2 separate regions of the Homo sapiens genome follow, and region 1 is linked to region 2. The links come from fine-mapping of genetic effects on gene expression. A gene starts in region 2. The other region holds a variant in brackets. All regions are shown on one strand. Distances are from middle to middle.

Evidence for each region. PIP is the estimated chance that this variant, and not a neighbour inherited with it, causes the effect.
Region 1: its variant is the best candidate, but not a certain one, in a credible set for the expression of POLR1B in testis (GTEx, PIP 0.75).

Annotation. Positions count from the first base shown.
Region 1 is chr2:112,586,727-112,592,101 of GRCh38, reverse strand. It overlaps CHCHD5 (coiled-coil-helix-coiled-coil-helix domain containing 5), which reads right to left. Exons shown (of 4, transcript NM_032309.4): 4 at 3,062-3,236. The coding sequence ends at 3,213. Among named protein-coding and RNA genes, the nearest start is that of CHCHD5, 4.8 kb to the right of the region's middle. The variant A/G (reference allele first, on the strand shown) is at 2,617.
Region 2 is chr2:112,540,034-112,545,408 of GRCh38, reverse strand. POLR1B (RNA polymerase I subunit B) reads right to left here and starts at 2,944. Exons shown (of 15, transcript NM_019014.6): 1 at 2,738-2,944. The coding sequence starts at 2,914. TTL (tubulin tyrosine ligase) reads right to left here. Exons shown (of 7, transcript NM_153712.5): 7 at 3,670-5,375. It overlaps LOC105373562 (a long non-coding RNA gene), which reads left to right and starts at 3,197. Exons shown (of 2, transcript NR_136321.1): 1 at 3,197-3,206; 2 at 3,331-3,753. RefSeq lists an enhancer at 2,912-3,061.

The DNA of each region.
Region 1 (5,375 bases), 47 kb before region 2:
TCTCTTTAATCTCAGCTGGGCTCATGACTGCTTTGACCAATAGAATGTGGTAAAAGTGATGTCTGAAGTTTCCATTTTCACTCTCTTGGACCCCTGAGACCATCATATAAAGAAGCTAGTCTAGCCTATTGTAAGACAGGACACATAGAGATGTTCTAAAGTGTAGTCTGGATCTCCATTTTGTCTGTTTTAATCACACTTCTTTTAGTTGCATGGCATAGAACCCCACTCAAGCTTACTCAAGCAAGTGGAGTGGGCTGAAAACATCCACCACAGCCCATGGAAACTAGAGATGGAAACAAAAAGCCACCAGGATCCAGACCCTTTCAGGGACAGGAACTTGCAGGGAGCCAAAGGCCTGTGGGATGTGACCAACTCAGCATTCCACTGGGGCTATATGATCAAACAGCAAACTGTTTACCATTAATACAGAATGTGGACAAACTCACTTCTGTGCCTGCCCCAGAAGGTTTGATGAGGGCAGTCGCTTCCTGGCGCCGAGCTCCTTGAGGTTATCTACTGCGACATCTAGGGAATGCAGTCTTGCAAGCCTACTCTGGACAAGCTGACCTCTTCTTCTACCTGCCTTCTCGCTATCTCTTTTGCCTAATAAATACAGAAAGCTGTGTAAAGCTCAGGGCCCTTGTCCACTAGAGGCAAGGTGCCCCCTGACCCCTTCTTCCAAATATACTCTTTTGTCTCTTGTCTTTTATTCCTGCATTCGCCACCCTTTCTTCAGTCCACCAGGGATTGTGGCAGGTTACAGGAACTGATCACAATTCTCTCTCCACTACCTGGGTTTCCTCCTAGCTCAGACAAATGGTATAAAATCTTGCAACCCTGAACTTACAGGATTTCTACCCGGCTCCTAAACCAATGAACAACTTCCTTTGTCTTGGAGATTAATCCCTAGGAGAGACTCCCATAGGCCAGGCTCATTCTTCCAAGCCGAGCATAATCCTTGGGTATCAAATGGCCAGTTACTCCAATTTCCAGAGGTTTGGGATCACCTCCAGGGAGGAGGGCCTCGTCTGAATGGTGAATGTGGGTGCAGGCCATGGGCATGCTCAGCTCAGCACTCTGGGGTCTCCTCCTCTATTGCATACACGCCTGTCTGCTTTCTATTCTTTAGGACCAGTCCCTACTGGGGAGCCTGTATCAAACAGCAGGAGCCTGTATTCCTGAGAAGCATGAAGAAGCCACAGCAGCCACTGTTGGTACCTGCCCAGATCCACTCAGCATCTCTTCCGCAGGTTTAAGGCTGCTCACTTGATCCCATTATACTCTGCTTACGGCCCTCTTCTGATGGCAGAAGTGAACTTGGCCTATAAAGGGCAGGCCAGAAGTACCAGTCAATGCCCATGAAAATACCCCTTAATGACAGATGGGAAGTTGGTAGATAACACAATTCCCTTGCTCCTTGATAGGGTAACTGGGTTATGTTCTATAAAGTCCCCCACAGGTCCCCAGTGGGACTGAGTCCCAGTTGCCCAGAGTGGTAACTCGCTTGATAATGCACCTTTTATTGGCTGCCTTCCTCTCTATTGTCTCCCTTCTCCATTCCTCTATCAGTGTTTCTGGAATCAAATTCAAATTACCATCTGCACTCAAATTCTGAGTTGGCTTCTGGAAAACTGGAAACTAAGAACAGAAATCCAGTGCATAGACCAGAAGCGGTGGCTCACACCTATAATCCCAGCACTTTGGGAGGCTGAGGTGGGCAGATCACCTGAGGTCAGGAGTTACAGACCAGCCTGACCAACATGGTGAAACCCCGTCTCTACTAGAAATACAAAAATTAGCCGGGCATGGCGGCCGGTGCCTGTAATCCCAGCACTTCGGGAGGCTGAGGCGGGCAGATCACCTGAGGTCAGGAGTTTGAGACCAGCCTGACCAACATGGTGAAACCCCATCTCTACTAGAAATACAAAAATTAGCCAGGCATGGTGGCGGATATCTGTAATCCCAGCTACTCAGGAGGCTGAGGCAGGAGAATTGCTTGAACTCAGGAGGCAGAGGTTGCAGTGAGCCGAGATCACGCCATTGCACTCCAGCCTGGGCAACAAGAGTGAAACTCCGTCTTGAAAAAAAAAAAAAAAAAAGAAGAAAGAAAGAAAAGAAATCCAGTACATGGCCTTCTAAGCCATACATCCTTCCATGTGGTTGTTTTCAATAATAAAGCCAGTATTTTCATCTCCATTGCCTAATGCCTCTGTTGCCCAGTTGATTCTGAATTCAGCAGGGAAAGACGCATATTATTTATCACCCCCCAAGCCTCCAGAAAACTGAAAACAGATTTGGAGAATGCAGCCAGGCACTGTGTCAAGTGCTTACGGTAGTGCTAGCTACTGTGGAGGCTGAGGCAGAGGATCACTGGAGCCCAGGAGTTCGAGGCTGCAGTAAGCTATTATCGCACCACTGTACTCCAGCCTGGGCAACAGAGCAAGACGTTGTCTTTAAAATATATATATAGGCTGCGCGTGGTGGCTCACGCCTGTAATCCCAGCAATTTGGGAGGCCGAGGTGGGCAGATCACGAGGTCAGGAGATCGAGACCATCCTGGCTAACACGGTGAAACCCTGTCTCTACTAAAAAAAAAAAAAAAAAAAATTAGCC[A/G]GGCGAGGTGGCGGGCGCCTGTAGTCCCAGCTACTAGGGAGGCTGAGGCAGGAGAATGGCACGAACCCCGGGGGGCGGAGCCTACAGTGAGCCGAGATCGTGCCACTGCACTCCAACCTGGGCGACAGCGAGACTCTGTCTCAAAAAAAAATAAAAATAAAAATAAAATAAAAAATATATATATTAAAAAAAAATAACAATTTGGGGAATGCTAGAGTGGAAGGGATTGAGGGTCTTTACCCCAGGCACATGCAGCAGAAGTCAGGAAATGGCTGTGTGGCAGAGTTCACAAGGGAGGCAGGGTAGTCTCAACCCTGGGGCACAGCTGCAGAGTCCTGTTCTTCCCAGGCACTTCCTTGGCACACCCGGTGAAGCTGGGGAACAGATGACTCTGCCCAGCCAGCTCTCCTAGGACCCTCTCAGGTACGGATGGCAGGAATCAAAGCCCAGTATACAGAGTCTTTATTTATTGGAAGTCCTGATATCCAGGAAAGCCGGGCCCATGTCCAGGGCTCAGGACTCCATCTGGCCACTCTGCAGGGGAGGGGCGTGGGGGCAGTCATTCATGTCCAGTTTTCCTGCCGTCAGAGGAGTCCTCAGGAGGCAGGAAGTGGCTGTGCCTGTGGAGAAAGTACATCAACATCTAGTAGCACCTCCTCTGTGCCCAGCCTGGGGAGCCTATGTAGACACCACAGAGGGAGACCCTGCAGAGCCCACAGTCTGGAGGGAGAAGGGTGTTGGGCAATGACCTTGGCCCTGAGCCATGTGAAAAAGTCAGCTGTGGTGAAGTGTCATGGGAGGCAGGGAACGCGCCATTCTGCTATATTTACTGAGCACCTGCCGTGTACCCAGCAGGCAAAACTCTCTGACTCAAGCAGGGAGAGACGGACAATAAATATGTCAACATCCAAGAAATTCGATGAAGAAAATTTAATCAGGGTAAAGAGCAGAGGTGTGTGCGGAATGGGAGGGACATGTACCACTTTGATTGTCAGCCACAAAAACACAGGACATTCTGTAAAGTCTGTATGCCATGCTGCAGGAGATGAGAATGTTTGTGTTCGCTATTGTGTAGACCAGACAACAAATCTCACTGCCCCTAGCTAGGAAGGAAAAACTGTAACTGGGATGCCATCCCCAGGAAGGAGGGGATGATGAGGAGATGTGACCTAATTCCCTTTTTTTTTTTTTTTTGGAAGACAGAGTCTCGCTCTATCGCCCAGGCTAGAGTGCAATGGTGCAATCTTGGCTCACTGCAACCTCTGCCTCCTGGGTTCAAGCAATTCTCCTGCCTCAGCCTCCCAAGTAGCTGGGATTACAGGTACCTGCCACCACACCTGGCTAATATTTGTATTTTTAGTAGAGATGGGGTTTCACCATGTTGGCCAGGCTGGTCTCAAACTCCTGACCTCAGGTGATCCACCCACCTCGGCCTCCCCAAGTGCTGGGATTACAGGCATGTGCCACCGCACCCGGCCCTAATTCCCATTTTTAAAAGCTTCTTTGGCTGCCAGGGAAGAGAAGACTGTCAGGGCAGGGGTGGCCACAAGGAGACCAGAGAGAGGCTGGTTGCTGGTCCAGGGAGGGAAGCAGCAAATGGCTCTAAGATAGGAGGATGGGGTCTTTACTGTTCAGATGCCCAAAAAACTTGAAAGACAGAAATGTCCCCAGCAGCTGACTGAGAACAGTATGTGATCGTTAGGTAACGTTTCCTGAGGAGAATTAAGTTCCTTCCGGCTCTCAGGGGTCGTAGTTTCTGCCCTAGGGGTCTGAACTATTCACTTATCCTTGCCTTACAGAAACAATTAATGCCTATAGGGCCTGGTAAGAAGGGCATCACCCCAATCTTCAGCCAAGAGCTCCCTTGACACAGGCATAGGATGTGAGCCTTGATGGAGGGGCTCAGGGACCTTGGGAACTTGAAGACAGGGGCGGGAAGTGGGTGGGACATCAGGGAGGTTTTCTGAGAGACGTGCCGTCTAAGCTGGAATAGGAATTAGCCAGGAGATGGATTAGGAAGGGCAGTCCCAGCAGAGGGAAACAGCTGGACAAAAGCAGCGGAGACGTGCACTTGAGTAACTGCATGTTCACTGGGGCTGGAACATAGAGCTTAAGGGGGAAAGAGAGGAGAGGTGGGACCACGGGTCGCAGGGACTGCATCCCACAGGGCCCTGTGGGCTGTGCTGGCATTAAGACTTGGGCTGGTGGAATTGAGAACCATGGAAAGGTTTGTAAGTAGAAGCAGAACATGGTCAGATTTCCTCTGAGATCAGTCTAGGATGATCACCAAGAATGACTGGAAAGTCAAGATGGAGCATGGGGCCCAGGAGAAGGATGGCCAGGTGGCCCAAGAGAGAAGCCAGGGCTGCAGGGGCAGAGAGAGGGCCCCAGGAGAGGGTACTCACAGGGGCTGGGGAAAGATGTGACTTTCACCTTTGGAGCTCACAGTCCAGTGAGGAGGGTAGTAAACATCTAAAAGAGCATTTTTCAACCTTTTTCCGTTACTGCCTCTCCTCAAGGAGTCATTTTAGACTTTTGTTCTAATTGCCCAACCATGAAACTTACATATCACAGATATACTGTATATCTGGTTTACATATTAGATACATTTAAAAGAGTGACCTTTTTTTGGCCACCCCAGCCCAGCCCCTCTGCAGTTGCAGATGAGGAGTAGTGAGAAAGAAGAGAGAGGGTGAGGCAGGAGGCAGATGAAGTCAGCCTAGGGAAGAACACAGAGAACCCAGCAAGGACCTGGACTT
Region 2 (5,375 bases):
GTGTTTCTGTTTAAGGACAGCTTATTTAATACATATTATTGAGTCCGTAACTCATGCCTGAACAAAGCCTATGATTTCATCCACTGATCAATACACAACCTTGCATTATGTGGGTTTCTGTTTAAGGACAGCTTATCTAATATATATTATTGAGTCCCTAACGCATGCCTGAACAAAGCCTATGTTAAATGCATGTATTAATATTTTCCCCTAAAGGCACAGCACAGCCTTCTTGTGCTTAGGAACTTTATACAGAACTTTAATACTTTAATACTTTGCTTGGGGGACATTTTAAACAGCAAAATCACCAACAAAAAGCACAAAACACGGCACTAAATAGATAGTGAAGACAACCTCTGTTTATAGTTTAAGAACTTAAAACAAGAAGGCCGAGCATCACCTTGTTAGATCTCAGCTGGGAAAATGGACACTGAGCAACTCAACTTTTTTGCTGCTTCTGGGCATGGTGCTTTTGGAGTAGAAGTAAATTTTAGTGAGTAGGTGAATTTGCAAATATGGAATCCCCAAGTAATAAAAATCAATTGTATTTTGAAAAGACAGACACATAAATTCTGACTCACAGAAAGGAGGAATTCACTCCAAAGAAACTTGGCAAAATTATGTTTTGTAAGTAAAAAATATGATAACTATTTTTTCCCTTGGCTTTATAAGTATTAGTTATTTATGTTACTGTGTTTTACAGAACTTTTTCAAATACTATATTATTATAGTCCTAGCTAAGTTGTGGCATCATTTTCTATGCAGGGCCAAATTTTCTTCATCTACTTCAACCAAAACAATTATCACAAGGGACTGAATGCACAAGCAGACATGAGAATCCAGCTGTCTTTTCATTAAGCCAGACATTAAAAAGATTTTTAATAATGCAATTCATCTAACTTCTTTTTTGCTTTGGAAAATATTTTTCTTAAAAATGTTAACATATAATTGGTTTATTTATTTATGTATTTATTTTTTTGGGAGAGTCTCACTCTGTCACCCAGGCTGGAATGCAGTGGTGCAATCTTGGCTCACTGCAACCTCCGCCTCCCAGGTTCAAGCGATTCTCGTGCCTCAGCCTCCTGAGTAGCTGGGATTACAGACATGTGCCACCATGCCCGGCTAATTTTTGTATTTTTTAGTAGAGATGGGGTTTCACCAGGTTGGCCAGGCTGGTCTGGAACTCCTGACCTCAAGTGATCCACCCGCCTTGACCTCCCAAAGTGCAGGGATTACAGTCAAGAGCCACCACACCCAGCCGACTGGCTTATTTTTAAATTAGTGCTTTTCTAAAATTTCTCAATTGGATTTTTTTTTTTTAAAGACAGGTCTCACTCTGTTACCGAGGATGGAGTGCAGCGGCACAATCATAGCTCATTGCAGCCTCAAATTCCTGGGTTCAACTTATCCTCCCACCTCAGCCTCCCGAGTAGCTGGGACCAGCTACTTGGGTGCGCACCACCATGCCCCACTAATTTTTAAATTTTTGTGGAGATGGGGTTTCACTATGTTATCCAAGCTGGTCTTGAAATCCTGGGCTCAAGTCATCCTTCTGCCTTGGCCTCCCAAAGTCCTGGATTACAGGTGTGAGCCACTGCACCCAGCCCGATTAACTTTTAATTAGGAATTTTTTCTCACAGACATGATACTGTAACAATCCAGGCACAATACAAATAACCCCCACCCCTCTAGTCTTTCTAAACAATAAATCTTAATGGCTCCCATATTATTTGCCGAATAGAGTTCAAGAATCAGACTGGCAATCAAAGCTCTCCACATTATCTGTATCCCTATCTCCCACAACACAAATCTTACCCAACAAAACCACAGGTAGGGTCCCCGAAGCATGTGACTCTGCTCTACTCTTCCCCTGGACGAAATGCACGTTTCTCACTTCTTGAACTCATCTAATCCTGCCCTTTCTCAAACTCCTGGATTAGTTGCGCCGCCCATAGGCTCCCGCAGTAGCCCACACAATCCCTTGGCAGAGCAGTTCTCAAGAACATTGGCATGCACTGCTTTCATTATCTTCACCCCTTCAACCCCCAAACACGACAGGGAGCACTTAAATGCATGAACTGTCTCGTACACGGGACTGCCTCCTCCACATCCTCTGAGCCTAGTGCCTGGAGACACTGGGGATGCTTACTAAACGAAGCTTTCCCCCACCATACTCACTTGAATTCTGCTACCATTACTCTACGCTAATAATGCAATTACACTTTTCGATTCAATCTTGCTTTCATGACTCATTTATACCTTCCTCGGCACCTGCTTAATTCATAACAAATGACGAGTAGTTTCTCTCTTTAAAGCTCTAAGAGAAGGAAACTGAAGGATAACCTTGAACATTACACTGTACCTACAAATACGTTCGGGATCTTTCGAGGTACGTTTTGGAGAGGTAAGTCTTCAAGTGATATAAAGCCGTGTGCATTGTGAAGCACATCCCCAGATAAGCCACTTCCTCACTCTCACAGCACCCCGAAACTGTCCAAACTACGGTTCACAATCACTTTTCACTCCAGAATCACGAATACATCTCTTAAGACGCCTCGACTCCAAGTCTCACGAAGGCCAGTACCGCGTCCTGTTTAACATGTTGTGCTCTCCCGCTTACCCACCAAGCCTGTCAGGATCAAGGAGCACATGCATCTGGGGTCATACTGTGACCTCCCAGCCACCTCCCTGGGATTGGCCTCGCCGCGGCAAGGGCGCCGGCGGACGCCGCGCTCACCTGCACCGCGAGGCCGAGACCCTCGTGCACAGCGTAGTTGAAGGACTCCACGTGCGCCCGCGTCAGCTCCTGCAACGCTGCCTTTTGCTGTTCCCGCGGGATTCCATAAGAGGGGTCAGTCAAGTGCTTTAGGCTAGGCCCGCTGGGCAGGTTCCGCCACCGGCTGCCAGGATCCATGTGGCCACCTGCACACCGGACGCCAGTCTCTCGGTACACGCCGGACGCCAGTCTCTCGGTACACGCCGGAAGTAGTGGCCGCAGTCCCGTTTCCGCAGCCTGCTGGGAAATGTAGTTCCCTCTCGTTCCACCCGCCCTAGGCCCTGCGGTTTCGGTTTCTCGGGGTCAACGTAGAACCAAAAACGTCGAGTGAACGGGCCGATTAAGGCCGTGTCCAGCCAGAGCGTGGCGGGCCCTCCCTTTCTCCCATATTCCGCCCCACTCATCTCCCCGCTCGCGAAAGATGCCGCAGGTGGAAACCCGCTCCCCGCCCAGTTGAGCATGTGACCTCTTTGGCTCTCATTGGCTCAGTCAATTAGGATCGGAGGAGAGCGGTCTTCTCAGGCTCTCTTCTGTTTCCCTTCACCTGTTCCCAGTCCCACGCTGATGCCGACCCTGGGGAGTCATCCGGCCAAAGTCGTTGCTTCAACGAAAAAGCGGATGCCGGGCCCCGGGCTGACTCTCTACCCAACTCCTAACTCGCGAGGCTCACCCCTGGGAAGCCAAGGAGTGGTCGGGCCCCGCTAACCTCGTCGCATCTTCCGGACTGGAGGCCTGGGGGAGGCCTGGGGAAGGAGGTGGGAGAGGAGTCGGGCGGTCCCGGATGGAGGGGATGGGGCAGCGGGGCGTCCAACTGGATTTACAGCCTGAATTTCTTTTGCGTTCCTGTGAGCCCCTTACCTCCCCAGAATACTGATTAATCAGGGAATGCCTGCTGGTTTTTCAACTTTATTGTGTTTGTGTTTAACAGCTATATTGCGTTATAACTGGCATACAATAAACCACACATTTAAAGTGTACGCGTTAAGTTTTGACCTATGTATACAACCATGCAGCCATCACCACAATTAAAACAATGAATTAAACCACCACTACCCAGTATCCTCCTGCCCCTGATAGTCCCTCCTTACTGTCAACTTCCCCTTTCCTAGTTCAGCTGGTACTTTTCATTCCTATATCACTTTTTATAAAAAATTCGAGCCGGGAGTCTGTTGCACAGGCTGGTCTTGAACTTCCGGCCTCTAGTGATCCTCTCGCCTTGCCTCCCTAAATGCTGGGATTACAGGCATGAGCCACCGCGCGCGCCCGGCCAACTGAGTAGTTGTAGTTCTTTATATAGCCTATACTAGTCCTTGTCAGATCCATGATTTGCAAATATTTTTCTCCCATTCTGTGGGTTTTTACTTTCTTGCTGGTGTCCTTTGAAGCAAAACGTTTTAATTTTGAAGTGTAGTTTTTTTCTTTTGTTGCCTGTCTTTTTATATCATATCTAAGACATCATTGTGTAATCCAAGGTCATGAGGATTTAAAAAAAAATTTATGGGTACATAATTAGCATATTTATGAGGTATATGAGATGTTTTCATATAGGCATACGATGTAATCATCACAGGAGGGTAGATGGGGTTTCCATCACCTCAAGCATTCATCATTTCTGTCATGAACATTCCAATTGTACTTCCTCAGTTATTTTTGAAGGTACAACAAATTATTGCTGACTGCAGTCACCCTGTTGTGCTATCAAATACTAGATATTTTTCAATCATGGGGATTTTCACCTATATTTTCTACTAAGAGTTTTGTAGTTTCAACTCTTACATTTAAGTCTTTGACTCATTCTGAGCTAATTTTTGTATATGGTGTGAGAAAGGCATATCACTTTATTCCTTTGCATGTGGATATCCAGTTGTCCTAACACCATTTGTTAAAAAGACTATTCTTTCCCTCATCAAATTGTCTTGGCCTCCTTGTCGAAAATCAGTTCACTATAGATGCAAGGGTTTATTTTTGACTCTCAGTTCTATTCTCTTGATCTGTATGTCTATCTACATTTATCTGTATATCTGTCTACAAACTACACAGATTTGATTAATACAGCTTTGTAATAAATTTTGAAATCAGGAAGTGCACATCCTCCAACTTTGTTCTTCTTTCTCCAGATTTATTTGATCCTTTGTATTTCAATATGGATTTTAGCGTCAGCTTAGCTTGTCAATTTCTTTCTCTTTTTTTTTTTTTTTTGTTTTTTGTTTTTTTGAGACAGAGTTTTGCTCTTGTTGCTGAGGATGGAGTGCAGTGGCATGATCTTGGCTCACTGCAACCTCTACCTCCTGCCTCAGCCTCCCAAATAGCTGAGATTACAGGCATGCACCACCATGCCTGGCTAATTTTGTATTTTTAATAGAGACAGGGTTTTACCATGTTGGCCAAGCTGGTCTTGAATTCCTGACCTCAAGTAATCCATCTGCCTTGGCCGCCCAAAGTGCTGGGATTACAGGTGTGAGCCACCACACCCGGCCCAGCTTGTCAATTTCTGCAAAGAAGGCTGAGATTCTTGATCAGGATTGTGTTCAATTGGTAGATCAATTTGGGGCCTATTTTCATCCTAACAATAATTATCTCCCAATCCATAAACATGGGA